Linked DNA regions of Homo sapiens. The protein of the gene in region 1 purifies or fractionates together with the protein of each later gene. This does not show direct contact. Each region holds a gene or a part of one and is shown on either strand. Other genes may lie near its edges.

Region 1 (3,322 bases):
TGTGTGACTCCTTTCTTATAGAGCCAGCAAGCTGTATTGGAATCACTTTTCCAGTGTTGTAAATGTTATTTTTGTGGGTCAGTCAGTATACTCGTGAATGACAGAAAAACAGATCCCAACAATGCAAAGTATTATATGTGTAAAAAAGAACAGAAAAAAGAAGCTGCCTTGTTAGTAACGGGGTCTATGGTTTTTCTCATCAAGAGGTCATGACGCCAGTCAGATCACACTAGCCTTGGGCACAGCTGCCTCCTACCCCAGGGCCTGCCAGGCTCTCGGGGCCATGCTGTCCAAAGGAGCCCTGAACCCTGCTGACATCACCGTCCTGTTCAAGATGTTCACAAGCATGGACCCTCCTCCGGTTGAACTTGTAAGTTGCTTCTCAAGAATCCCCAATGTCAGCTGGTAAGGTGACTTTGGAAAGTCTGTGCTTGTCTGATTGTCTGAAGGCTGTGAATGCAAATCCATCATTGTCCTGGTCCTTCCTCAGTCACACTCTCTGCCTGGAGCCTGTTGGGCCCCTGCTGTGTAGGGAACCCTGAGGGGAGGTGGGTGAGCAGTGCCCTCACGCCTGCCATCCCGAACTGGGCATATGCTTCTCCTCAGATCCGCGTTCCAGCCTTCCTGGACCTGTTCATGCAGTCACTCTTTAAACCAGGGGCTCGGATCAACCAGGACCACAAGCACAAATACATCCACATCTTGGCGTACGCAGCAAGCGTGGTTGAGACCTGGAAGAAGGTACCATCGGTTCTGGGAATTTGTGGATTTTTTAGGAGACAAATATCCTCCTCTGCTTTGATATTATTTTGGAATTTTGGCTGCAAGAAATCTTGACCCTCCCTAGTATCAGGCATGTGTTTTCTTGTGTTTCTGCGTAGAGAAAGCACTAAACGTCTCCAGAAAATGTGCGTAATGTCTCCAATGCTCTGCAAACCGTAAATTGAAATGTGACTAAAGAAATGAAACTGATTTCCGTAAGACATGGACAAACACTAGTCTCATTGCTTTTCAGTTTCTGTACACTGTGTGACTGTGAAGTTTGACAGCTGAATTGACTCCCAACTTAAGTAGAAATAGGGAAAGTGCTTTGCAAGAAGTGGCCGACACCAGAACACCCCGACAGCAGGGATATCTGCCCTGTCAGGCTCACCAGCTTGTGTGTGTGTTTTCAGAACAAGCGAGTGAGCATCAATAAAGATGAGCTGAAGTCAACGTCAAAAGCTGTCGAAACCGTTCACAATTTGTGTTGCAACGAGAACAAAGGGGCCTCTGAACTAGTGGCAGAATTGAGCACACTTTATCAGTGTATTAGGTAAGCAAAACGAAACTCAGTTCTTAAATCAGTCCTTTGGGGAGGAGGTCGTTTGAGTTTTCATATTGAAAGCTCAAATAACAAAAGCTTCAGCGATACTTGTTCATTTTATTTATTTTTTCATTTTTAAACAGTATGTAGGGAACTTTAAACAGCTTTAGCAGCATGAGTAATTTTCAGATGTTTATTTGCCAGAAGTCTGTTGAGTACAAATTAGGCTAAGTAAAAGATAGCCAGAGTTAACAAAAATTGATTTGAAGGGTCTATTTATAGGTAAAGTTATGCCCACAAAGTATTGCTTACATAGAAATGATTTGTGATTATGCCAATCATATAAATAGACGTGTCCTAGAAATAGTGTGTCCTCTTAGGCATGTCTTTCCCCTAATAATTTATACTAGGGATGAAGAAAGAGTTTGCTAAATAAAGGTAAACTTCAACCCAGTCCACCAAACTCACTGAGTATCACTCATTAATGATCTTTTCCTTTCGATAAGTGGTTTAAAGTGAGCAGAGAATTGAACTCTGCTTCTTGCACCGCATGTTGAGTGGCTGCTGATCCATTCACACTATTTACTAATAAGCAGAGCTTACGCCAGGCACAGTGGCTCTGGCCTGGAATCCCAGCAATCTGGGAGGCCAAGGCAAGAAAATAGTTTGAGCCCAGGAGTTTGAGACCAGTCTGAGCAACATGGTGGACCCTCTCTCTACAAAAAATTAGCTAGACATGGTGGCACTCACCTGTAGTCCCAGGTACTCGGGAGGCTGCAGTGAGCCATGATTGTGTCATTGTACTCCAGCCTGGAAGACAGAGTGAGACCCTGTCTCAAAAAAAAAAAAAAAAAAGGGTTGGGGGGCGTATTGAAGGGTGAATGATGGAGTCATTTGAGTTTGTTTTTAACTTTCCTTTAATGCTTTTCTAGCATATTTTGTGTTTTAAATTGTTTTTTAAAGGAAGCATTCTGCCTTAACTGTAGGTTTCCAGTGGTAGCAATGGGTGTGCTGAAGTGGGTGGATTGGACTGTATCAGAACCAAGGTACTTTCAGCTGCAGACTGACCATACCCCTGTCCACCTGGCGTTGCTGGATGAGGTAAGAGGGCGGAGAGCTGTTCACAGCCTACACAGTGTCTGTCTCATGCTGTTTACGTTGGCATTAACATTGCATCTATTCAGTGAGTTTAGAGGATACTCTTCTCAAAAATAGTTATTTCTGTCCTGAGGATTTTCCTCTTAAGGACCTAGCTTCATTGACTGCAGAAATTTCTTAACCTCAGTCAAGTGTTACTGGAAGCTGATGGCCCTGGCTTAGGTGTCAGGACCTTCTTCCACAGTGATAAGCTCTTTGGTGGCTGTGACAGTGCCCAGTTTCTCTGTGTGCTGAGCGTGACCACACTGCTCAGCGAAGCTCCCTCTGGCCTGTTTGTAGATCAGCACCTGCCACCAGCTCCTGCACCCCCAGGTCCTGCAGCTGCTTGTTAAGCTTTTTGAGACTGAGCACTCCCAGCTGGACGTGATGGAGCAGGTGAGCAGTGCCCGTGGGGCTTGCCAGAGGGCTGAGGAGGACCCTCTCTAACCAGCTCCCTGTCCCCCTTCTTCTGTAGCTTGAGTTGAAGAAGACACTGCTGGACAGGATGGTTCACCTGCTGAGTCGAGGTTATGTACTTCCTGTTGTCAGTTACATCCGAAAGTGTCTGGAGAAGCTGGACACTGACATTTCACTCATTCGCTATTTTGTCACTGAGGTCAGCAATGCACCGTTGGTTTCATGTTTCATACTGTTTACACTAGCACTGCCCTTTTTGGCTTAATTTAGTTCATTTTGTACCTAACTGAGAACTGTGCTTTCTGATGTAGTGATGACAATGACAGATACTCGTTTACCAAAAAGCACCTTCTGCCTGCAGCAGCTGTATGACACACTTTACCTCCATTACCACCCTGGGCATCTGAATGTTGGAGATGGGTGGTGTCACCGGCCGGTGGGGGTGGGGAGGGATTTTTTCCA
Region 2 (8,924 bases), on another chromosome or scaffold:
TGTGGTGCACACCACTGGAGAGGCAATCCGGTTTGTGTCAACTTCCCTTCTCTGGGAATACTCCCTGATATGCAGGGATGCGCCCCTGGTGGTCACGTGTATGCTTTGTTGTGACTATATTTCCTGGACCATAACTGATTGATGCAGCACAGACACCTCTGCCGAAAGAAATCCAACAACCCTCTTTTATGGGGATTTAAAATGTCAATGGGGAGAGAGTCTGAAGGGCAGTGGGTCTCCAATGTCCTGAAGAAAGGGTTCACAAACTCCTGCCACTGAGGTCCCAAGAGCTGTGCCAATTCCTGCCTTTCTGAGACTTGTTCAATTTCATCCCCCATCCCATTTTTGTATACCTATCATCCTTCCAATAAATCACTCTTTGCTTAGTTTAACCAGACTCAGTTTCTGTTGCTCTCAACTAAAACAGTTAACAGATAATGATTCTATATTAAAATCTCTTAGAATTTCTTTTCTATATTTTTATTGGGTATTTATCATGTTAGCAGAGCCTGTAAACTTTAAGGGCTTCAAGAAATTTTTAAAAAATATTTCCCGGCCAGATGCGGTGGCTCACACCTGTAATACTAGCACTTTGGGAGGCCAAGGCGGGCGGATCACCTGAGGTCAGGAGTTTGAGACCAGCCTGACCAACATGGAGAAACCCCATTTCTACTAAAAATACAAAATTAGCCGGGCGTGGTGGTGCATGCCTGTAATCCCAGCTACTCGGGAGGCTGAGGCAGGAGAATTGCTTGAACCTGGGAGGCGGAGGTTGCGGTGAGTCAAGATCCTGCAACCACATTCCGGCCTGGGCAAAAAAGCAAGACTCTTTCTCAAAAAAAAAAAAAAAAAAAAGGTAAAATGACAAAGTCATGCACACACATGCTAATCTGGAAAGCTATAAATCAAACTGAAAACACTGGTTATCTTGTAGTGGAATGGCTGGCCACTTTGACTTTCTACTTTAAACATTTGGCCTATTTATTTATTTTAAAGAGACAGGGTCTCACTCTGTTGCTGCCCAAGCTGGAGTAGAGTGGCGTAACCATAGCTCACTGTAACCTCAAACTCCTGGGCTCATGTAATCCTCTCACTTCAGCCTCCAGAGTAGCTGAGACTATACAAGTGCCCGCCACCATACCTGGTTAATTTTTTTTTTTTTTTAGATGAGGTTTCCCTATGTTGCCCAGGCTGGTCTTGAACTCCTGGCCTCAAGGAATCCTCCCAGTTTGGCCTTCCAAAGTGCTGGAATTGCAGGCATAAGCCACCATGCCTGGCCCAGAACAAACTTATTCTTATGTCATGTTTGTGGCAACAAAAATTCAAAAAATAATGAGACTTCCAGGTTAGCTTTAATAGAGAGAGGCAAGCTAGTGCTTTCACAGTAACAACTAGATAAAACTAAATAGATTATTCAAATAAATAAATGGCTTTAAAGATTGAAGAGCTGTCTTCTATGCATAGCAAAGAGGACTAGCAGAATTAAAATTCCAGAGGGAGAAGAGGCCTCTCTAGGTGAGCTGAAAGTGCCAGCCATTTCCTCTCTCTACTTGTGGTACTTGTAGAGCTTTAGCGTGAGTGATGATAACTGGGGCTTGCCATAGGCAGAACTCCATCAAGAGAAAGAAAAACCAGCAGAACTTATGACAGCTATATGGGTTGGCATGACAGACTAAATTTCATAACAGCCCTAAATTTATGGCCAGTTTTCTACACAGGACATTCACCTCCAGGCTGGAGGCCTGAACTAGAAAACCAAAGTGAAATTAAGCACAATCTCACAGTGCTTAGCAGATAAAGCTAGAGGGAGTGGCCTGTAACAAACATACAACGGATCCCACTCTTGGGATACTACACCGAACTGAAGGACTTAAATCTTCAGCCCAGTCCAACTCAGTTGTTTGGATAGAGGTGTTTTATACCTCATTGTATCTGCCTAAGACTGCAAAATGCAAACATTAACTTTAGACTCTAAAGGTCTTTACACACATTGTCTAGAAATCGTCAAAAACTTCTGCTGCCTGGCGCAGTGGCTCACGTCTGTAGTTCCAGCATTTTGGGAGGCCGAGGCAGGCTGATCATGAGGTCAGGACTTCGAGACCAGCCTGACCAACATGGTGAAACCCTCTCTCTACTGAAAATACAAAAATTTGCCAGGCATGGTGGCGCACGCCCATAATCCCAGCTACTGGGGAGGCTGAGGCAGGAGAGCCGCTTGAACCCAGGAGGCAAAGGTTGCAGTGAGCCAAAACCGCGTGCCACTGCACTCCAGCCTGGGCAACAGAGCGAGACTCTGTCTCAAAAAACAACAACAACTTTTGCTTTCCCAGGAGGGAGGGGACTGTGTGTGTGTGTGTGTGTGTGTGTGTGTGTACAGAATACAGCAGTCTACATGTTCACCTTCTTGCATCAGCACTGCTGGCCTAGGGAATCTCTCACAACTTGATCATCCCTCCCTTTAATTTCACATGCCCAGAGAAGTGGAGATTTCTCATGTTCAATTTTTTAACATTTTCAAAACTACAAAAATAATTTTTCAACATTAAAGTCTCTTCTAGGAATCCAAAGCCCTATTCCACCGAGAAACTCAAAATCAACATAATCATTTCATTTTTTTTTCCACTCATTCTACAAATACTTAATTTCTATCTATATGTCAAGAACTGTACTCTAGGCTGGGCACAGGAGCTCACGCCTGTAATCCCAACACTTTGGGAGGCCAAGGCGGGAGGATTGCTTGGACCCAGGAGTTTAAAACCAGCCTGGACAACATAGTGAAACCCTATCTCTACACAACATTTTCAAAAGTTAGCCGGATGTGGTGGTGCATGAATGTAGTCCCAGCTACTGGGGAGGCTGAGATAGGAGGATCTCCTGAGCCCAGAAGGTTGAAGCTGCAGTGAGCCATGATGGCGCCACTGCACTCCAGCCTGGGTGATAGAACAAGACCCATCTCAAAAAAAAAAAAAATTGTACTCTATATTTCATGAAACAAATAAGAGGTAAGAGGTAATCCTTGTCTTCAAGAATTGTGCAGTATTTTGTTTGTTTGTTTTTTTAAGAGAAAATGGATGTAAATATAAAAGGAAGTAAGGAAATCATTTTAAAGAATATCACCTAAAGGAATTTATATTTAATATGTAAGACGAAAAACACATACAAAGTAATAAGCATTTCTCTTACAAATGTTTCTCAAGCTGTCTCTTCCTCCTCATTTGACTGACAAAATCAAGGAAAGTAGATTAAGCAATTTGTCAACAGTCATGGGAAAGCTAAATATCAAAGTTGGAACTAGAGTCCAATTATTTATAGGTTGGTGCAAAAGTAATTGCCATTAAATGGTTTCCGCCATTAAAAGTAATGGCAAAAGTAATTACTTTCAATGTCAAAAACCGCAATTACTTTTCCACCAATCAATACATTTTCCATTTGCCATTCCTTAGTTTATATTGCCTGAGATTTTCTTTTTTTATTTTATTAATTCCATGGCTTTCCAATGAATTGAGATTTTCTAAGAATCAAATTTTCCTTTAATTATTTCAGAGGTACTACAACTTAATCTGATTGTTTTAAAATAATCAGTGGCTTAATATTAGAATTTTACTGCAAATTCATCTTCCATACTTATTTTTGCTATTTAAATAATTAGCTATTTTTGTTATTCATGTTATTAGCTACACTTACATGGAGACAAATGGTTATATGGGTTTCCTCTACTAAGAAAATGGGTTTCTAGGAAATGAGGTTTCGCACCAACTAATTTAGTTGTCCTGGAAATAACCTGCTTGCCTATGTAAAAGTCAAGCTTATACAGGAGGCAATAAAGACACTACCCTTTAGCACAACCTGCAGAGCTCTCCAGCACATGGTGGACTGCAGTACAACCAGGATCACAAGCCCGGTTTCTCAGCCCAGCTTCTTGGCATTTGAAATCAATGTGAGAAAAGAGCAGAGGAAAGAGCTGACACGTTTCCCCTTCCTTGTAGCACCAACCGGCGTCTCACAGCTGAAGCCCTTGGTAAGACAATGGAGAGGGTGCCGCAAAAGTCACCACTGGCCCCACTGCCCTGTAGGGAGAGCTTAGGGAGAGGTGATGAAGCATATCAGAGTGTGCCAGACCCCAGGACCTTCTCTGGCCTCTTCCTACTTCTCACAAGCTCTCCCCTCACGCTAGTAAGAACATTCAGTAAACCGCTATTGTTTTAAACCACTTGCAAACCTGATACACTATAAATTAGGCTACGGGTTTCTTTAACAGCTTATGTGTCACCACAATCCATTTCTTACTTATGTCTGTAACATTATTTTAGGGAGCTAGTTTTTGTCAACCAGCAGAGTATGTATGAAATATGACACAGTAATTATCATCAAAAAAATAGAAATAAAACTGTATTCAACATCTAGCTTTATCAAAACTTAAGATTTAGCTTATATGCTTTAGATCTTTTTTCCATTAAATAAAACATTAAAGTTATTCATTCAATACTTATTGAGTCCCTGCTATGAGCTAGGCATGATCTGAGCACTAGAAATACACTCCTGTGAGAGAGGCAGACAACAGATAAGCAAATAGATATACTGTATCAGATCACACTGCTACAATCAGAATAAAATCGTGGAAAAAGAGCATTTTAAACAGGGTGGAGGTAAGGTGTAAGCAGATGGACTTGGAGTAGGGAAGAGAACTCTGTGAAAAAGCTTTCCAGGCTGAGGTAACTGTAAAGGCTAAAGCCCCAGGGACCCCAGGCGTGGTAGGTCACGCCTGTAATTCCAGCACTTTGGGAGGCTGAGACAGGAGAATCATTTGAACTTGGAGGCGGAGGTTGCAGTGAGCCGAGATCACATCACTGCACTCCAGCCTGGGTGACAGATTGAGGCTCCATCTCAAAATAATAATAATAATAATAATAATAATAATAATAATAATAATAAGGCCCCAGGGAGGGGTGCTTGATGGCAATGTGTTTGGGGAACATCAGAAAGCCCGGATTGGCTAGAAAGCAGTGACCTGGCAGGATATGAAGTCAGAGAGGGATGGGAAAGTTCATGGTGGGCCTTGTAAACCCCATTTTGTATTCTGTTATTAGTGACAGGAGGCCATCAGGACAGTGTCAAGATCTGACATGTTTAAGTAGTTCTCCAATCCTTTTAAGAAGTCTGTCCTGGGGAAATGCTATATTTCCTTTCCTCCTCAGAAGAATTGGGAATTTGGTGTTTATCATTCCCCTGTATTTTTAAATACTTTCACTATATAAACACATGGCCATAAACAATGTAGTATTCTCCTGCATGTATTAGTACTGCATTCCTTCAGTAGTATTGCTGAATAATATCCTTTTATATGGATATACCATATTTTATCTACTCATCAGTTGATAGACATTTGGATTGTTTCTACTTTTTGGCTATTATAAATAACGTGGGGCTAGACACAGTGGTTCACGCCTGTAATTCCAGCACTTTGGAAGTCCGAAGCGGATGGATCACTTAGGTCAGGAGTCTGAGACCAGCCTGACCAACATGGTGAAACCCCATCTCTACTAAAAATATAAAAAATTAGCTGGGCGTGGTGGCATGTGCCTGTAGTCCCAGCTACTCGGAAGGCGGAGGCAGGAGAACTGCTTGAACCAGTGGGGTGGAGGTTGCAGTGAGCCACACTGCACCCCAGCCTGGGCAACGGAGTGAGACTCTGTCTCAAAAAAAAAAAAATTTTGCCACTCATGGTGGCATATGCCTGCAGTCCCAGATACTTGGGAGGCTGAGGTGGGAGGATTGATTGAGCCCAGGAGGTGGAGGCTGCGGTGAGCCATGTCCTGCCAGCCTGGGTAACAGTAACACCCTGAATCAATCAATCAATCAATCAACAATGCTGCTATTATAATTAATATACAAGTTTCTGCAGGAACATATGTTTCATTTTTCTTGGGAGTAGAATTACTGGGCCACATGCTAACTCTATGTTTAACTGTTTCCTAAAGTGGCTGCATCATTTTATAATCCCACCAGCAATGTATCAGGATTCTAATTTCTCTATATCCTCATGAACACTTAATACCTGGTTTATTATTTTAGCAATCCTAGTGGTGTGAAATGGTATCTAACTGAGGTTTTGTTTTGTTTTGTTTTGTTGAGACAGAGTCTCACTGTCGCCCAAGCTGAAGTGCAGTGGCACCATCTTGGCTCACTGCAACTTCCACCTCCTGGGTTCAAGCGATTCTACTACCTCAGACTCCCAGAGTAGCTGGGATTATAGGCACACACCACCACACCCGGCTAATTTTTACATTTTTAGTAGAGACGGGGTTTCACCATGTTGGCCAGGCTGGTCTCAAACTCCTGACCTCAAGTGATCCGCCCATCTCGGCTTCCCAAAGTGCTGGGATTACAGGCGTGAGCCACGGTACCTGGTCATATACCTTATTATTTTTTAATTAAATAGAGATGGGGTCTCGCCACGTTGCCCAGGCTGATCTTGAACTCCTGGGCTCAAGCAATCCTTACACCTTGGCTTCCCTTAGTGCTGGGATTACAGGTATGAGCCACTGTGCCCAGCCCTTAATACCTATTTTTTGGAGTAAGACTGGATCACACCCATAGTATCAGTACAACCGCATATTTCACTGTACTTAGAAATTATCACAAAATAGTCTGCTACAGTGGCTGTAATCCCAGCACTTTGGTAGGCTGAAGCAGGAGGATGCTTGTGGTCAGGAGTCTGAGACCAGCCTGGGTGGCTGGGTGCGGTGGCTCACACCTATAATCTCAGCACTTCAGGAGGCCAAGGCAGGAGGATCGATTGTACCCAACAGTTTGAGATCAGCCTGGGCAACATAGTGAGACTCTGTCTCCCTCTCTCTCTGTCTCCCTCTCTCTTTATATATATATATTTTTATTTATTTTTGTTTGTTTGTTTAAGTAAAAAAGAGACTAGCCTGGGGAACATAGTAAGACCCATCTCTACAAAAAAAAAAAAAAAAAAAGGCCAGGCATGGTGGCTCAAGCCTGTAATTCCAGCACTTTGGGAGACTGAGGCAGGCGGATTACAAGGTCAGGAGAGCGAGACCATCCTGGCTAACATGGGGAAACCCTGTCTCTACTAAAAATACAAAAAAAAAAAAAAAATTAGCCGGGTGTGTTGGTGAGCACCTGTAGTCCCAGCTACTCGGGAGGCTGAGGCAGGAGAATGGTGTGAACCTGGGAAGTAGAGCTTGCAGTGAGCCAAGATCGCGCCACTGCACTCCAGCCTGGGTGACAGAGCAAGACTCTGTCTCAAAAAAAAAAATTAGCCCACTGTAGTGGTGCACACCTGTGGACCCAGCTACTTGGGAGGCTGAGATGGGAGGATCGCTTGAGCCCGAGAAGTTGAGGCCGCAGTAAGCTATGACTGTGCTACTGCAGGCCAGGCTGGAGCGAGACCCTATCTCGCCAAAAAAAAAAAAAAAAAGAAAGAAAAGAAATTAACGGAAAGTAGCAGATGGATTTACAATAGACCACATTAAAAAACAAACCTCCGGCTAGGCGTGGTGGCTCACGCCTGTAATCCCAGCACTTTGGGAGGCGGAGGCAGGTGGATCACCTGAGGTCAGGAGTTCGAGACCAGCCTGGCCAACACTGTGAAACCTTGTCTCTACTACAAATGCAAAAATCAGCCAGGCGTGGTGGCGCATGCCTGTAATCCCAGCTACTCAGGAGGCTGAGGCTGGAGAATCGCTTGAACCCGGGAGGTGGAGGCTGCAGTGAACTGAGATGGCGCCACTGCACTCCAGCCTGGGCGACAGAGTGAGACTCCGTCTCAAAAAAAAAAAAACCTAACGCAGAGATTATCTCAATGTTTTATGATCCCACATTAAACATGTATTATTTCTATAATGAGAAGTAAAAATTATTTTTTTAAAAAAGGAAGAATAGCTGCCTCAAGCTTTGCAATAAAAAGTAGTCTTAAAGACAAACTTAAGATAAATTTTCTAACAGTAAATGGGTCAAGAGCAAAGGACTTACTTTTTTATCGGTCACAAATTGTGAATTATATTACAGAAGCTTCTCAGAAACTACCCAGAAGGGAACTGACTTTGAGTCCACAAACCATTTATTTAATCAAGTATGGCACACCCACTCAGAATGCAAACAGTGCCTCTACCCATCCCTCTGAATTGCCTATTCTACCAATAAACACTGCTTCTTTCTTCCAAAAACTGAATCTAATTAAATCAACCAATTAACTGTCTTGCTCAAAGCGGTGCAAATTTCTATGGCACATGGGCAAACCCTAAAAAGTGGGCAAGTCTGACTTTTCTGAACATCCTAGTTCTAAAATACTATCTTAAGAACATAGCTGCTTACACATTTCCCAAGAATTCCTGTTAAAGAAAATTCCTGAGTATCTCAAATAACTCTGGAATTCTTCAGATGCAGCTATGTAAGAATCAAGATATGCTTCCCCTTAGAGTGAAAACTGAAATGAAAATCTTGTCCTCCAAGTTGTAAATTACATTATTTCTGAAAAGCCTTCAGGTATCTGAGGTATCTTATCAGGATCTGCTAAATCTAAATAGATATATGACTATTCTAACTATTTCTACTGTTCTAGCCTCATAACTATCGTCTCCTTTTCCTTAACTATCACATATAAACCCCCAGTTACTGTTTCTCCCTCAGTGGAAACAAAAGCTAGTAGCTATTTAGTAAACCAGCTTTATTAGTTATTTATTTGCCTCCTCCTAAGAAGCAAGACTAACACTTTGTTCTTTCTACTTTGCTTATTATTTAACATAAGAACACAACTTTTGCCCCAATTCCTTGAGATAGAATTTTTTATTCTGTAAGCCAGAGAGCTCTCATCCTTCTAATATCTCATTAAAACTACACCCAAAGGGAAAAAAGTTAGGGTCAAAACTGTCTCAAAGGTAGATAACTTTTTTTCTTTC
Region 3 (8,924 bases), on another chromosome or scaffold:
CAAAATAGGAAAATAAAGAGAAGTGCAGGAAGATGGAACAGTTCAATGAAGTAAGGTTTTGTGAACATTCATAGCCTCTCTAGAGGATGGTGAGTAGACCAGGGTTTTAGGAGATGTCGCATAATATTAGCCCAGGCTAGTCCTGGAAATCCTTGTATTCCACACTAAGGCATTTGGACTTTATCCTTAGATCAGGAACTGTTTCAGAAAGATAACAGACAGCAGTGTGGTAAAATGGAGTAAGAAAGAGAGAATAGAGGCATATGGAATTTAAATGTAAAATAGATAAACGATGAGCAGAAGTCAACAATGAATACTAAAAGGAGAGGACAGTAGTATCCTAAAAAGATATTGGCATTTTTCTTATTCTGGGTTTCCAAAGGCTAAAAAATTTTTATAACATGCTGCCTCCACACAGAAAAACGCTCCTCATTAAGAGCACTGAGTTGCCACAATATTTTTCTAAACAGAACATGTCGTTTGGATTAAAATGAGAAATCCTATTTTGACTTCAAAACAGGCTTTTGAGGAAAATTTTTAAGATGGGTACATTTCTGACCAGTCAACAGTAAAACACCTAAGGCAAGTATAGTTCACTAATAATGATAACTGACACAAAATGTGGATGCCCTACCTTGATAGTCCTGTCCAAAGAGGCACTGGCAAACTGATTGTTATCTTTGGGGTTGATCACAATCTGCATAACATAATGGGTGTGTCCTTCAAACACTTGTGAGCAAGACCATTTTTTATCCCAGTCCCAGAGCTTAATAAGCATGTCATCTAGGCCAAAAGAAAGTCTCAAGTTAGTTGTAATTCTATTTTTTCACTTCATAACTAAGACACAGTCTTTAGAAGAAGCAAACCTAACACAAACCATATAATCCATGACTTACAGAAATAGAATCAAAACCAAATAGAGTTTTCAAAATGCTTATTTATCTTAAAAATAAATTTAACTCTCTACAGAAAAGTGGAGATAAAATAAATAAAATAGATTAGAAATAGAAAATATAAAAATTCTGTGAAAAAACTTAAAAATTCAGTGGGCATTAAAGAATGGCCAAAGAGTAATATAAGTTTGACTAGATCTAAGCATGACTGAATAGTGATAGCAATGACTATGTAGAGAACAAGCATTTGCCCTCACAAGATTGGTTTTTAAAAAGTTTTTAATTACTTCTCAATTTTTAATTTAAAAACATTTCAAAGAGCTATTACTAATTCAGTGCTACCTCTTTTTCCAGTCCTCCAAGAGGTCTACTATTTATACACAATACCAAGGAGCAAACTAGTTTGAATATAAAGATTGAACTGAATAGGGTCTATGGCAATCTGCCAAAAACTCACTCATCAACATGTAAATGACCTTTCTGTTCAGCAGATGTTTAAACATCTAGACTTGTAGGTCTTCTCTGACAGGAACTGGAGCAATCATTACACAAATCCTAAGTACAGTTGATATTTCATTATAGTACAAACACAAGCAGCATCAATAGCACAGTAATGGATCTAAATAGTTTAAAGGCCGCTTGGAATTAGAATTATATTTGTAACAGCAGTTAAAGCATAGCATGTCTCAGTGAATGAAAATGAATTACCCAAAGAGACGCACATGACCAAAAAAGGTCATCTCTTACCACTGCTAGTTAGAATGAAAGGCTGGGTTGGATGAACAGCAATACAGCGAATGTAGTCTGAGTGTGCTTCAAACATATGAACTCTCTCCAGAGTATTGTAATTGAACACTCTAATCTGCATGTCATCCTAGAAACAGAAATTTTAAAACCATCATCCCTGTTATCAAGTAAATTATACAAAAAAACTATATCACAGGCTCAAGGAATAAAGTCTATGCCTCAAAACATTGCTGTAAATAACAAAACAAATCGGGAATCAAAATCCTGCAACAAATTTACACAATCATTGACCAATTCAGAAAATGGGAATAGAGATTCATATTAATTACTTACCGCTCCTGTCACAACCCAATTCTTCCTTGCAACAAACTTTGCAGCTCGAACAGGAAGATCACATACTTCAAATGTCTTCACCAGTGTCTTTAAAATGTAACAAGAATACACAAATTGAGCTATAAGAAAATAACCACAAAATCTACTCTGTTATATTTCAAACATCCAATTTTTAAGATCACTTCTCATTTTAGTATATTCTCAGGCTAAAATATAAAAGCTCAACATTCAAATTTTTAAAAAAGACCAACTATCTTTTAATAGATTCGAAATTAAAACACTTTTTAAAAGATAAGAGAAGGCAAATATCCACAAGATGGTATTCCAGATCCTCTGTGCTCCAGCCCTTCCCTCCCTTTTCCAGCCTCACCTTTGGCTACTCCCAGCCTCACCTCTGCTCTTGTTGTCTCTGACTTGAAAATCCACCCATGGAAACTTGTACTTCCCTTTCATAATGTAGCACCTCATAATTATGTTTAGTGCCAATCTTTCCTGCTAAGCTCTCCAAAGGCAGGAATATTTTTCACACTGTATAGGCAGAGGATAGAACAGTGGCTGGCACACAAGTAGTGTGTAATAAATATTTGTTGAATGAATTAGCTCTTAGTTTCTTTTTTTCTTTTCTTTTTTTTTTTTTTTTTTTTTTTGAGACAGTCTTACTCTGTCACCCAGGCTGAAGTGCAGTACAGTGGCACAATCTTGGCTCACTGCGACCTCCGCCTCCCAGGTTCAAGTGATTCTCATGCTTCAGTTACCCAAGTAGCTGGGATTACAGGTGTGCACCACCATGCCAAGCAAATTTTTGTATTTTTCGTACAGACGGGGTTTCACCATGTTGGCCAGGGTAGTCTCGAACTCCTGGCCTCAAGTGATCCACCCGTCTCAGCCTCCCAAGTGCTGGGATTACAGGCGTGAGCCACTGCACCTAGTCAGTCTTTTTGAAATTGAAACCCATAAAAGTGACTCATGAATAAGGTACAATTCTTTTGCATGCTTTAGCAATATGATTCCATACAAATGTTATTATTTCTTTTTAATAAAATATGAAAACACCGTGACTTATATGTTCCTCCGAGCTGCTCAGAATGGAATTATACACATAGGATAAAGGTAGAGACCCTCCTAGAAAGAGCAGAGATCATGGTACCTCTTTGTTCTCCTTCTTTGATGCCTGTTCTTAAAAGTCTGAAAGTCAAACTATCATTTTCTAATCCTTTTTTGTATCAGAGAGCAAAAATGAAATAACTAAGAAACACAATATAATCTTACTGATTGATTAACCATGTGCACTAAAAAAGTAATAGGGACCGGTTCATAAGAACTGTCCTACTCTGACTTTTCAAGCCAGAGTTCAAAGATTCTTTAGACAAAGGCTGAATGAGTAGGCACTTCAACTCTAACCTGTAGAATCACTACCAGCTGACTATGATACAGAAACTGAGAGTAGACACAACATGCGATCTATAACACGGCAGAAAAATCCACAAAAGCTCATGAGGAGCCAACAAATCCAGGGATCTGCTGAGCAGTAAAAATAAAGCAGCTGCAGAAGAAATAGCCAAGGTTCAACGCCATGTTAGGGGCTATGACTGATGCAAATAAAGAGTAAGAAAAGCTACACACACAATACATACAAATACTCAACGTAGATTAGGAAAGTATAACTAATGACTAATACTTATATGGTACTTTATAGGTTTCATACACAATTTTATCTAATTTTATTTTATCTTTTTGACAATCCTGTGATGTAGGCAAGGCAATAATATCATCTTCACTTCAGATAAATAAAGAGGCTCAGCATGGTTAAAAGGCTTGCCTATATAATTTAATCAGCAAGTTGGCTTCAAATCCTAAAATACTATGTTTTTTAAACCACTGCATGTACCACCTCAAAGAATATATAGCATCTCCTTATTTGAAATTCAAGTACATCTAAAAACCTTTTTACTTCCAAAAACCTTTTTGGCTCTCTCAAGAATTTGCTCTCAATATAGGAGTGGTAAATGCTGTTGGTGATATAAACACAGGGAAAAAACAGGGAGAATCAAAGACAGATTAATCATTCAACAAAGACTTACTATCTACCAGGAGCCTGACAGTGTATCAGGTAGTGCCTCATGCACTGGACCAACAGTGGGAAATAAGATGAGGGTAATCCTTGTCCTCACAGAACCTCCATTCTTAGAGGAAAGAAGGAAATTAAACATGAAATTACCACTGAGATGAATTATGAAAGGGGAAGCAGATGGTCCTGTCATAGGGCAGAAAAAGGTATAGAAGAGAAAAAGGAGGCAAAGTGGAAATGCAGATAAAGCAGAGATATATTACAATAAAGCCTAGAGAAAGATAAGAAAAGTACGCCTGGGCTTTAGAACATACGATGATCAAGTGATAGAGCTGAGATAGGTAAATGTAGCTGATAAGAGGGAATCCCTAGGAATAATCAGAGAGAGAGGACACCAACGTATCTGTTAAACATAAAATCAGAAATATTTTAAACATCTCAAGAACTAAACAAAAAGCAAAAAAAAAAAGTTATTTGCATCAAAGCAAAAACAATTCACAAGATAAAGATCTGAAATTGTAGAGAACACAAATACTGAACTAGTGATAAGTGAAATGCATATTATTCATTGGTTGAACAAATAATTATTGAGCATTTACTATGTGCCAGGTAATGTTATAGGTACTGAGATACAGCAGAAAACAAAATGTTAATTTATATAAAATGTCACTGATGGACTATGATATGGTTTGGATTTGTATCCCCACCCAAATCTCATGTCAAATTGGAGGAGGACCCTGGTGGGAGGTGATTGGATCATGGGGGTGGATTTCCCCCTTGCCGTTCTCGTGATAGTGACTTCTCATGAGATCTGATGGTTTAAAAGTGTGTGGCACTTCCCACTTTGCTCTCTCTCTCCTGCCATCATGTGAAGAAGGTGCTTGCTTCCCCTTCACCTGCTGCCAAAATTTTAAGTTTCCTGAGGCCTCCCAGTCATGCTTCCTGTTAAGCCTGTGGAACTGTGAGTCAATTAAACCTCTTTCCTTCATAAATTACCCAGTCTCAGGTAGTTCTTTACAGCAGTGTGAGAACAGACTAATACAGGGTATGAGTTTAGTGTACAGTCATTTCTGTTTCATTACAGTGAGTATAAAAGTATAAAGGTGTTTTTAGGTTTACTTCTGGCTTTGGTTCCTTGATGTCATTTTGCCATTTTAAATTCCTCAAATGCGAATTTTACCTGGATTTCAAGAACTTAACTTTGGACGTTAAGGATAATTACTATATAAGTAGACACAACTGTATAGTATAGTGCTAACTATATGCTTTGTACTCTTAAATACAGTCTAGGAAGACTGGAAAATATGAGACAAACTAATTTGAAGGATATGTTATTTACTCAGGTGAAAGAGAATGAGTCAAGCATTCAGGCAGACAATCTGTAAGATGTGTGTATAATCAAAAGCTGACTATAAATATTTCCCTGATATAATCTATATGGCTGAGTGAAAGATTTATCTGTGTATCATTATATTGGGCATCTGGGAGAAAAATAAATTTAACGATATCATTCTTAAGATAGAGTATTCACTGAATGGAAAACTAACGATTAAATACTTTAGCAAGTGATTCTATAATACCATCAGTTTTCTCAATTTCAAAAAAGAGCTAATACTACCTAAGTCAGAGTTGTTATATTTAAATATTGTATATAACATACCCAGGACAGTTTCTCCTACAAACTATCCCCTCATAAATGTTAGTTCCTTCATATTTAAAATACTTTGTACCAACTTGAGAAAGCAGTTTGCATATAGATTCTGGATTCTGTTATAATATTTCTTCTCTTTCATTATAAACACAGTCTCACATAGTATTTTATTTCTAATACAGTCCTGAAAAATTCCTACCTGTGTTTCATGATTCCAAACACACACACTGCCATTGTAAAGACTTGCCAACATCCATGGCTCTGTAGGATGCAGATCCACACTCTTAACTCGATCAGATCTAGCAGTTAGCTTTCTTTTGATATCAAGTCGCAGAGGCTAAAAAGAAACATTAAAAAAATTAAATTGCTAAGCCAAATAAAATATGTTTGAGATTTTAACTAAATAAGTGCATGAATAGGCCTACAAAACAATTCAGCTACTACTTTGCTAAGCTTTTGAAACAGTTTCAAGTCTAAGCACTTATTTCTTCATTTACACATCAAAAAAATCAGAATATTCAACATTTTAAGATTTACAGCAGTGGTCTTCAAGCTTTTTGCTCTAAGGATTCCTTTATAGTCCTTAAACACTTTGAGGACCCCTAAGAGCTTTTGTTTATGTGAGTTTTAGCTATTGGCATGTTACCATGTTAAAAATTAAACCTGAGACAACTTTAAAATATTTATATATTAATTCATTTTCAAATAACAAAAATAAATCCAGTACATGTTAATTAAAATAACATGTTTTTATGAAAAATAACTATGTTTTCAAAAAATTTAGTGAAAAGAGTGGCAATATTTTACATTTTTGCAGAACTCTTTATAATCTGACTTAACAGAAGACAGATGGTTTCTCATTATCTGCTTCTGCCTTCAATATGTTGTGATATGTTGTTTTGGTTAATGTCTACAAAATAATGCCTGGTCTCACAGATACCTAGTTGGAAAGTGAGGAGTATCTTAATAGTTTTTTCATTACTTGAAATTCTTCGAAATTCGAGAAGTGGTAGTTTCTTAAAGGCTACTTGCAAGGTAAAATCTGAAACCGTATCAATAAGCTGTTTATACTTCGTTACATTAAAATCCATTGGTTAAGTCCATACTTTGAATGGATCTTTCTCTCATGCATGTTTTTCTACCATTAAGCATTGGTCGTTTGGAAAATGCTGGTCCACTGAATTATGCACATCTTCTAGATGCTAACAACATCATGATACTGTATTAAAAAAATTACACATTCACTAATTTCACCACCTACTTCAACTGATAAGCCTTTAAGCATTGGAAATCCATCAAGTTCAGTGAGTTTTTCAAAATTCGAACTTTCACTTGAAAGCTTTAATTTTATCATTGGCAAGAAATACTGTCAGGGACCAGCCAACCTCTTTCAGGTTTTTAAAAAATGTCGACCAAATATTCAAGTCTGAATAAGCAGAGTTTCTCAGTCATTGTTTCAAGTAAAGCTCACAACTTAAAAACGCTACAAGTGTTTCCCCTTGAGACAACTACGATACTTCGGTATGCAGTAGAACTGCTTTATGCATACTCCCCATTTCACCACACAGAATTTAAAAGATGCATACTCAAGTGTGGAGAGGTAATAACATTTTTACTGTTTCATCAATGACATTCTTAAGTGAAAATGACTTTTTAAAAAACTGTCACAATGAAGAATATACTAACAGTACAATTTGGTGTCACTTCACTAGCAGTTTTACCTTCCACTACTTTTACACCATCAGTGCAAATATCAACATTGTGAAAGGTGCCAATAGCGTCTCACTGTTAAGAAAATAATTTTAATTTGTGGACCTCCTGAAAGAGTTTTAGGGACTCTTAAGGAATCGCAGACCACATTTTGAGAACCTCTAGTTCATAGAATTATCTAGTAAATAAATTTACTTTTTTTCTTTTTGAGACGAAGTCTCGCTCTGTCGTCCAGGCTGGAGTGCAGTGGCGAAGTCTCGCTCTGTCGTCCAGGCTGGAGTGCAGTGGCGCTGATCTCTGCTCACTGAAACCTCTGCTTCCCGGGTTCAAGCGATTCTCCTGCCTCAGCCTCCCAAGTAGCTGGGACTACAGGCGCATGCTACCATGCCCAGCTAATTTTTTGTATTTTCAGTAGAGACAGGGTTTCACCGTGTTAGCCAGGATGGTTTCGATCTCCTGACCTTGTGATCCGCCCGCCTCGGCCTCCCAAAGTGCTAGGATTACAGGCGTGAACCCCCGCACCCGGCCAATGAATTTTAAATATTCACAAATCACAATTTTGTGCCCAGGTCAATAGTGTCATATCAGGAAATATTCTGAAGAAGTGTTATTCATGAAGTCCTAGTAACCATAAAGCATAATATTGAGTTCTTTGGAGAAAAATGGTAGATTTATCTTGTCAAAAATACTAGTAAATGCTAGGTAACATAATGTGTGATCAATAAGGGTTATATCCCTATGCATGATGGCCTTTGGTATCAAATGGGAATGTCTGAAATATTTTAATGGATTTAAATTACAGAAACAATGAAAATTGGAAAAATTTAAAACAAAAATAAAAACATTCTCTCAAGTCAGAAAATATGAATAGTTTATACTAGCATTTTCAAGCCAAATTCTTCCTTTGAATTACAGAACAGATAATTATTTGAATAACTATTTTCTCCATTCTCCAAAAAATGCCATTATAGGAGAAAAGTTAATTCAATATATACAATGATCCTTAGGGCAGTGGGCTTAATTCTCTCTAGGAGGCATGCTGAGAAAAGACTGATTTAAAATATATTTCCCCTTCAACAGGTCTTAAACACAACCTAAAAGCTCATTTGGCAAGTTGAGTTACTGTCAAATCTTTATTGCTGTGATCTTCTATGATGATCATGAATGGGACAGAAATTTAAGGTTACTTTTGAATATAAAAAGAAGATCTAGCAGAGACAACTTCCTGAGACAAAACACCTCACAATGCTTTTACTCATCTTTTTTGGGGATTTTTATCAAATTTGGGTCATTGACTACTTCAAGTCTTGTTCTACCCACGCCTCCTTCATTTTCAGCAACAACCTTTACCTCTTACTTTAAAAGATCAGAGTTCTCTGGCTCTTCTCTTCAATCTCCTCAAAAATGTTTTCACTGTCATCAGTCCCTTCCTCTCTCCAATTTTCTACTTTCTTGTTTTTTTTTTTGAGACAGAGTCTTGCTCTGTCGCCCAGACTGGAGGGCAGTGGCGTGATCTCGGCTC
Region 4 (8,924 bases), on another chromosome or scaffold:
AACAAATACATGTCAAATGAATAAATCCTTTATTACATACATGCTAATCACTGGAAAGGCAATTTGTGGGATGAGAGAGGTGAGTAGAGAAACATGTCCTAGAATATAAACAATACAATTTCCACCAAACATTACATGTACACCAGAGTACACAACCAGACAAAGGATTAAGGATATTTGGTAAATTTTAAATACTTATGAAGAAGAGTACACTCATCCCTCGGTATACTCGGGGTACTTGTTCCAGGACAGCCCAAGTATACCCAAATCTATGTATATTCAGGTCCCATGGTTAGCCAAGTGGTAGTCAGCCCTCTCTACAGGTGGGTTCCATATCCTGTGAATATCGTACTTCCTTTTCCCATTTAGTTGAAAAAAATCTGTGTATAAATGGACCCTCACACTTCAAACCATGTTGTTAAAGGGTCAACTGTATACAGTTTTTGAAACTTATTTTCCTCTCAATGTTTTCGCAGTTCATCACATCTTTCAATGAGTAATGTTTAACAAACAAGTAGTAACATTAAACACTACTTAAACCACAATTGCTTACTGCTTGCTCATTCCATAGAACCAATGAAATAGCTAACCAAATAGTTTTTCAAAGAGTTTTTCAGTGTTTAATATCCTGGTTCACACCTCTCACTATCCCTTCCCAAGCACCAGCATCTTGATTTGGGGGTTTTTCATTCCAATCTGTATATACCCCTAAATAATGTATGTTACTATTTTATGTGTCTTTCTATGAATAACCACATTATTAAGTACTTGTGGAAAAACATTTAATGGCAATTTTTTTAAATTTACAAGTTTCTAATACTGCAAAATAAATCAATTATCAAATAATTCACAAATTTAACAAGCTTAATTTTGAATATATTCAAAATTACTAAATACATGTCAGACACAGCTCAAATTCTAAATAAATATTAAACATCATCCAAAATCCAAACTCCTAAGTACATTAGAGGGGAGAGAAAAAAGGAGACTAATGTTTACTGAATACCAACTTTGTGCCAGACTCTGTTTACATATGTATCATTGTTCTGGACTAAATCTTTGTACCCTGGCCCCCCAAAACCCCCCCAAAAATTCTTATGTTGAAGCCCTCATCCTCAATATGATGGTATTCGGGAGGTAATCAGGATTGAATGAGGTCTTGCGGGTAGGGCTCCCATGATGGGATTAGTGCCTTAAGAGACACCAGAGAGCATGCACTCTTTCATTCTGCCACAAGAGAACACAGCACAAAGGCAGCCTTGTGCAAGGCAGGAAGAGTGGCCTCACCAAGAACTGTATCGACCTACACTTTAATCTTGGACTCCACAGCCTCCAGAATGGGTGAGAAAATAAATCTCTGATGTTTAAGCCACCCAGTCTATGCTATTTTGTTATGGTAGCCCAGGCCAACCATTACAATAATGTAATTCTTTCATGACTCTAATAAATATTATTAGCCATATATTACAGATAATGAAATTGAGGATTAAGATGGTAACAGCTCAGAGAAAAACATAATGGTTAATCTTACTTAAAAAAATCAATCCAAATCAAAATGATACAATTTTATTTTTCATTCATGAGGTCAGTAATGACTAACATGTTTACTATCTAGTGTAGCAAGCTTATGAGGGAAAAGGTGAACTGTAGATGAAAACATAAATTGGCATAACCCTTCTCAAAGGCAATTTGAGAGTATCTGTCAAAATTTAAGATATGCCAGGTCTAAGATGAGGTGTCTAAGCCCAAGTAGAGCAAGGAGGGCATTCCTGGAGAGGGGCAGCATGGTGTGGCTGGTGTGTCAGAGCCTGGACAGAACGAAGTCACCCACACTAGAGGATGGGAGGGTGGCCTGGCATAAAATGTGGAGCCCAAGTTGGGCAAGAAGGGCACCTGTTGGGGGCAGCAAAGATTGGTTAGGAAGGGGGATGACCAAATAGACAATACATTGAAGATAATGGAAGCCAGGTTTCTCACTATTGGAGAAGGGAATAACAAATGTAGAAAGGGAAAAAACTAGAATGAATCCAGTGGTGTTGAACTGCAATTGGAGACATCTGTGTGAACCCATGGTTTTATACATACACACACACACACACTCCTGTACATCCCTAGTTCCTTCCACTTAGAGGGTCTGGGAGCAGGAATATCCCAAATGCAATAAACATAAGCAAAGTGAAGACCCTGCATTCTAAATACCATTCTCCACTAAAAAGAAATCACATTGGAGCAACGGCTGATTTCACATATAAAATTAGTTTGGAATACACCTTGTGCCAGAATGCTAGGAAATGCACAAAGAATAATGGAGACATGGCAAAAGGACACAGAAGACAGCCTGAAGGAGTTCTGCATGTTCAAATATGGGACAATCTGAGAATCCAAATAATAGTTACAAATTATAACCTACTGAGTCAGAATCCACTAGTCCACACTGCTATACATTTTTTAAAAGATGAACAAGTTACAAGTTTGATGATCACTGGAATACTGTATTTACATAGTTTCAAAGTCCCTCCCCCAAAACTGCCTATTAGGAAGGGAAAATTAGTAACCTAACAATGGAAAGGCCTAACAAACACCACCTTAATAGTGATTGAAGTGAACATCCCCAGTAATGGAACAAATGAGAATAATGTTCCACCTAAAAAGATGTCATTAGAACAGAGCACCAGGACTACAATGTAGAACTTCTATCATGAGGAAATAGGCACAGGTGAGGAACATTCTACAAAATATCTGGCCTGTAGTCTTCTAAAGTGTGAAAATCATTAAAGTTAAAGACAAACAGGAAATGCTCTAGACTAAGGAAGACTAAAGAGACAGGACAAGATAATGTAATCCAGGACTCTATAGTAAGACATTATTGAGACAATGGGAGAAAGCTGAAAGTGATCTGTGGGTTAGATCATACAGGTTGAGTATCCCTTATTCAAAATGCTTGAGACCAGAAGTGTTTCAAATTTTGTATTTTTTTGAATTTTGAAATACTTGCATTATATATTTACAACTGGGCATCCCAAATCCCCTAATCTGAAATTTCATGTTGGTACTCAGAAAGTTTGAGATTCCGGAGGATTTCAGATTTGGGATGCTCAACCTATAGTAATGCATCAGTGCGTTAATTTCCTGATTTTGATGGTTGTCTTGTGACTATGTCCTTGTAGGAAATACACATTAAAATACTCAGGAGTGATGGCCATCAGGTTGGCAACTTATTCACAAATGGTTTAGAGAAAAATGTTTGTACTGTACTTTCAACTATTCTGTAAGTTTGAGATTATTTCAAAATAAAAATTATATTATAAAAAATGAGTCTGCCAATTCAATTTGGCAATTCTTCTCTAGGAGTTTATCTTATAGATTAGCACACACACAAAAAGATGTAAACATATTCATTATCTGTAACAGAAAAAAAACAACAAAACCCAAGCAACAAAAACCCTAAAGCTATAAGGTTATTCACTGCAGCATATTCCATTTTTTTTTTTTCTTTTAAAGGCCAGGTGCAGTGGCTCACCTGTAATCCCAGCACCTGGGAAGACTGATGGGAAGACTGCTGAGGCCATTAGTTCAGTACCAGCCTGGGCAACATAACGAGACCAAATCTCCACAAAAAATTTGAAAGAACAAATTAGGTGAGATGGCACATGCCTGTACTCCCAGCTACTAGGGAGGCTGATAGGGAGGCTGAGACAGAGGATCACTCAATCCCAGGAGTTCAAGGCCGTAATAATCTGTGACAGCGCCACTGTACTCCAGCCTGGGTGACAGAGCACCAGAGCAAGACCTTGTCTCTTAAAAACACACACACACACACACACACACACACACACACACACATACATAAAAGAACCAAAGAAAAAACCCTAATATCTATCAAGAAGGGACTAGTTAAATAGACTATTTAAGATGAACACAATGAGGGCATGAGGTAGATTTTTATATTGATGCAAAAATGTACCTGAGATACATTAAATAATAAAAATCAAGTAGGAGGAAATAGTATATATCGTATGTCTTCTGTGTATGTATTTAAAGGATACATACAAACAAGTACAATTTATAAATACATTCTGGAAGGATACTAAAGAAAAAAACATTTAACGTTGGTTATCACTGGGACATAAATAACTTTTTTGGGGAATTGTAGAGGGAAACTGTGTTTTTACTTTTTAATTTATACTCTCATTAAGTTTAAATTTTTACCATAAGCGGTTACTTATACAATTATCCTATATAATATACTACAAAAATATTTTAAAGAGGAAGTTAAGTAACTAGCATGAGGTGACTAGCTGAAAGTTTATGAATGGTAGATTTGAACCTAGGCCTAATCCTAGATTCATCATGCTTATTCTATCCTGGGGTTCAAAAACTTTCTTCTTGCACACAATTATCAAAAATGGACATTCAACAGGTACTCTTCGAATCATTATACAGATTACACATTTTTTCTTAAAAATTTTTAGTAACATGAGTTCTCCATTTCTTGCTACCACCATGTAACTAATTCAAATGTTTAATGGTTATGTCCACTATATTACATTTAATAATGCAAAAACAGCAAAAGCCCTTTTTGGCACTAGGTAAACTGACTAGCATGGTGTGTGACATTATCAATACTGGTCACATCTATCTTCTACATTTAAGATTCTAAGGAATCCTCCTATTGAATGTTTAGTCCTGTTGGTATATGCTGTTCACATAAATATTTCTCAATAGCATTTTTCACAGGGCAGTTCTTCCTCGTGCAGGCACAAATATAAAATCCTTGACCTCTACCCACTAAATGCTGGCAGTTTTTCTACACTCCTACCTGTCAAGTCAGTGTGACATCCAAAAACACTCCCTTGGTTAAGAACCACTGTAAGATGTCATACTTTTTAAGGCACAGGTGATAATGCCTCATTTATTCCAGAATGCTGGCAGCATTAGGGGATCACCAGTCTGTTGTCTGCCTCAACAGACAGATTCCCATCATAACACTGTCTTATCCAGAAATTTCTCCAGGGGCCAGAGGGTGGGAAGGTGGGTAGTATTCTGCTCCTGATTTCTTCAGACTATATAGAAATTTCACCTAATACAGAAAAAGTATAGAATACTTAGTATAATATCACTCTTGTAAACGCTATTGCTGCTGCAGGCAAACTCAATTTCATTCTAAATATTCTAAAAAAGCTTCTCTCTCAAAAAAAAAAAAAAAACCCTTTCAATTCTGGCACAGGAAGAGAATAAAAGAATCTAAAGGAGCACTTGTTCTCTTCCCTCTTTTACTCGAATCCACATCTAATTGTCAGAGAAACTAATAAAAATATTTTTTAAAACTCTTTCAATAATTTGATATGGAAAAGTAGTCAACGTTTTAAATAAATTAGGCTGGGCGCGGTGGCTCATGCCTGTAATCCCAGCACTTTGGGAGGCCGAGGCGGGCGGATCACCAGGTCAGGAGATCGAGACCATCCTGGCTAACACCATGAAACCCCATCTCTACAAAAAAAATTAGCCGGGCGTGGTGACGGGCACCTGTAATCCCAGCTACTAGGGAGGCTGAGGCAGGAGAATGGTGTGAACCCAGGAGGTGGAGCTTGCAGTGAGCCGAGATTGCGCCACTGCACTCCAGCCTGGGTGACAGAGCGAGACTCTGTCTCAAAAAAAAAAAAAAAGTTTTAAATAAATTATAGACTACTTCAGTTTTTGACTCTATCACCACCAACCTGACCGTATGATTTGAAAAATGAAATCTTCTCTAGACTTTTAAGTTGCCCTCCGGTCCTAGAATTCTAACCATTTCAAAGCTTCCAAAATCATATCAAAATCAATCACACCCAGGACCTTGAATGTCTTCCTAATAAAGGCTGTTCTAAATCAGTTTAAGTAGTCAAGAAGTTGGAGGCTGTATATCACAAAGATCCTAAATATGATTTTTTACAGCTCCTGCTTAATGACCAGAAGATTACACACCCACCAATTAGAATAATTGTGAGGAAATGCCAATGTAGCACCAATTCACAGGCTATAGAATGGGGGAAAAAATAAAAGCAGCATTTGTACCTTCAGAGACTCCTTCCAGATGTTGCACTTTACATTGAAGGGCTATTGAGAAGAAACTATGCTGACATGGTGCCTCACACCTGTAATCCCAGCACTTTGGGAGGCAGAGGCGGGTGGATCACCTGAGGTCGGGAGTTCAAGACCAGCTTGACCAACATGGAGAAACCCTGTCTCTACCAAAAATACAAAATTAGCCGGGCATGGTGGCACATGCCTGTAATCCCAGCTACACGGGAGGCTGAGGCAGGAGAATCGCTTGAACCCAGGAGGTGGAGGTTGCAGTCAGCCGAGATCGCGCCACTGCACTCCAGCCTGGGCAACAAGAGTGAAACTCCATCTCAAACAAACAAAAAAAAAAAAAAAAAAAAAAAAAGAGAGAGAGAAGAAACAATAAAAATTCCCTTTCCTTAAAATGATTAAATGAACATCCTACCAAACATATTCTTATGCAAGATGGGATGTAGCAACGCCACTCCCAAAAGAAAGACCCACTCCCAAAAGAAAATCTATTAGTCGAACCACCAGTAACGACTTTCATGTGGCAACCTCTATACTCCAAGTTACCCGAGAGTGGATAAAATCCACTTTCTGGAGCACTGACACTCAACAAAGCGTTTGAAAGTAAGATCTGTTATAGACTGCAGAGATGTTCATAGGCTGCCTTAACAACACCAATTTTAATTTGTATCTGTTAGTGAATTTGTCAATGGCATACTTACAAGAAAAATAATTTTCCAAAGTACAGAAAGAACTTGAAAGTAAATCAGGGCATTAATACTTGAAGTGAAAACTCAAATACCAAAAGATTGAAAATAGGTCACTGTTTTAAAGTAATACTTTTCAAACTTTAATGTTTTTTCAAACATCTCTCTTAGGAATCCTGGTAAAGCCCACACTGATTAAGTAGGTCTAGGTTTGAGGAATGATGAGATGCTGCAATTTTAACAGGCTCCCAGGCAATGCCAAGTCTGCTGTTTCATGGATCACATTTTGAATAGTAACAGACTCTAAACCTTGACTAGACCAAAACATGTCGGAAATGTAGATTCTCAGAAAAGAAATAATTCTTTGGTGATATTTTCTGAAGTGTTTTTCTTTTGCTTTTGTTACTCATCAGAACAACTTTCATGAGTAAATATTGAGTGGTTTCACCTTGTGGGATGATTTTCTCACAAATTCAAATTAAGAAAAACCTCTCCAAATCATAAACCAGAGAAGAGAAACTTGAACAAAATAAAGGCATTAAAAATGTTTCTCACTCTAAAATGGAAAGTTTCCTGAATGAATTAATTCTACACATTTATACCTGAAGACAACAAACATTCTGTAAGGAGACCCATAAATGGTCAATTACTTAATGTTAATAAACAAGTCTGTTGTGAGTCTTTTGTCCTTAGAAAGAATAATTTTTTTTTGCTTTTCCTTTTACCTTTTTGTTTTGTTTTACTATATAACTACTGACACTTTGAAAAATTGCTGCTCACATATAAACTTAGAACAAGCACAAACTACACTCGCAAAAGCTGATGAAAGTTGCTGAAAAAAATCAAGTGTACCATCAGGTACATAGTTATCTCTAGATCGTTTTTAAGCAGTCAATTATCAACTAACTACTCATTTTAAATGCGGGTTCATTCATCATTCATTCAACATGCATTTATTGACCACCTACTATGTATCAGGCACTTTGCTAAATGTTACAGATAAAGTTTGGATCAGGGAGTTAGACCTTTCAGATCCTGGCTTGGACATAATGGCAAGTTTTGTTTGTTTGTTTTTCTTTTTGTCTCTAAGCCTCCATATTCTCAAGGTGATAGTGATAATTAGATTATGTAATGCAAATAAAGTGCCTAACATTCCACCCTGTATATGATAATGAAGAATGCTATTTGAAGTATTAAGTTTGAGTAAGAAGTAGATCCTACCTTCAATAGGCCAGCTTTCTACGACACAGCTCTATGTTGGCGGATTATGAAGCAACTTGAAAGCGAGCTAAAGAAAACATGACTGAATAGATAAATCCATTACCAAAACAAAAAACTAAGAATGCCTACAACACATAATTAATTCCAGAACTGAAAAGAAATGTGCTTTGGGTTAGTTTACCAGTTTCTGTAGCATGTACACTAATGTTCTCTTCCACTAAACAAAGTAACAGTACATTATAAATAGAACAAATGTTCCAGCTATGTGGTTTTATGCACAATAGGATCATCATAGGGTATACAACTTGGGACAATTTTAGTGAAGTAGTAATTGCTTGATGCAACAGGATGTGTACCCCATTAACCACAATTCTCTTTCTACCACCTTCAGAAAGTAATCTCCTTTTCTTATAAGGTAAATATTTACAAATCCTACTCATCAACCATCAGCCAATAAAGCAGCCTATTTTGAAAACCTAACTGGCAACAGCAATCTCACAAACAGAAGCAGTACAGCTGAAGTTAAGAGCTTTGGTGTCAATCAGGCCAGGTTTCCCAGTTCCAGTTCTATTATTTCTAACTAGTTATGAGACATCAGAAGGTTTCTTAACCATTCCGAGCTTCAGTTTATCTGAAGAATGGCAATACTGAGGCCTACTTCTTATATTTATGAAAGTGGAATATGCTATTACAAGTAAAGCACTTAGACAAGTTCCTGAAAACAACAGCCACTCAATAAATGTTAGCAATTTGCTATTATCTACAATGAAAAAACCAGGTCTTTAGTTTTGAAGCTAAAAAAAAAAATGTGTAAGGTTTAGGTTCTTTTAAAAAAATATTTTATTTTTGTAGGGACAGGGTCTCGCTATGTTGCCCAGGCTGGTCTTGAACTCCTGACCTTATGTGATCCTCCTGCCTCTTCCTCCCAAACTGCTGCGATTACAG

Evidence for each region.
Region 2: the proteins of NELFCD (region 1) and SPTLC2 purify together in Homo sapiens (affinity purification with mass spectrometry; one large-scale study listed by BioGRID and IntAct). This does not show direct contact.
Region 3: the proteins of NELFCD (region 1) and COPB2 purify together in Homo sapiens (affinity purification with mass spectrometry, with the first as the bait; one large-scale study listed by BioGRID). This does not show direct contact.
Region 4: the proteins of NELFCD (region 1) and SEM1 purify together in Homo sapiens (co-immunoprecipitation; one large-scale study listed by IntAct). This does not show direct contact.

What each region holds. Positions count from the first base shown.
Region 1 is NC_000020.11:58,990,706-58,994,027, forward strand, and holds part of NELFCD (negative elongation factor C/D), read left to right. Parts: intron 1-204; coding exon 205-370; intron 371-606; coding exon 607-741; intron 742-1,175; coding exon 1,176-1,315; intron 1,316-2,292; coding exon 2,293-2,407; intron 2,408-2,743; coding exon 2,744-2,839; intron 2,840-2,918; coding exon 2,919-3,059; intron 3,060-3,322. UniProt on the Homo sapiens protein: Essential component of the NELF complex, a complex that negatively regulates the elongation of transcription by RNA polymerase II.
Region 2 is NC_000014.9:77,604,032-77,612,955, forward strand, and holds part of SPTLC2 (serine palmitoyltransferase 2), read right to left. Parts: intron 1-8,924. UniProt on the Homo sapiens protein: Component of the serine palmitoyltransferase multisubunit enzyme (SPT) that catalyzes the initial and rate-limiting step in sphingolipid biosynthesis by condensing L-serine and activated acyl-CoA (most commonly palmitoyl-CoA) to form long-chain bases.
Region 3 is NC_000003.12:139,377,407-139,386,330, forward strand, and holds part of COPB2 (coatomer subunit beta'), read right to left. Parts: intron 8,024-8,924; exon of another isoform or gene 7,598-8,023; intron 6,030-7,597; coding exon 5,892-6,029; intron 2,061-5,891; coding exon 1,974-2,060; intron 1,768-1,973; coding exon 1,641-1,767; intron 784-1,640; coding exon 635-783; intron 1-634. UniProt on the Homo sapiens protein: The coatomer is a cytosolic protein complex that binds to dilysine motifs and reversibly associates with Golgi non-clathrin-coated vesicles, which further mediate biosynthetic protein transport from the ER, via the Golgi up to the trans Golgi network.
Region 4 is NC_000007.14:96,700,169-96,709,092, forward strand, and holds part of SEM1 (26S proteasome complex subunit SEM1), read right to left. Parts: intron 1-8,924. UniProt on the Homo sapiens protein: Component of the 26S proteasome, a multiprotein complex involved in the ATP-dependent degradation of ubiquitinated proteins.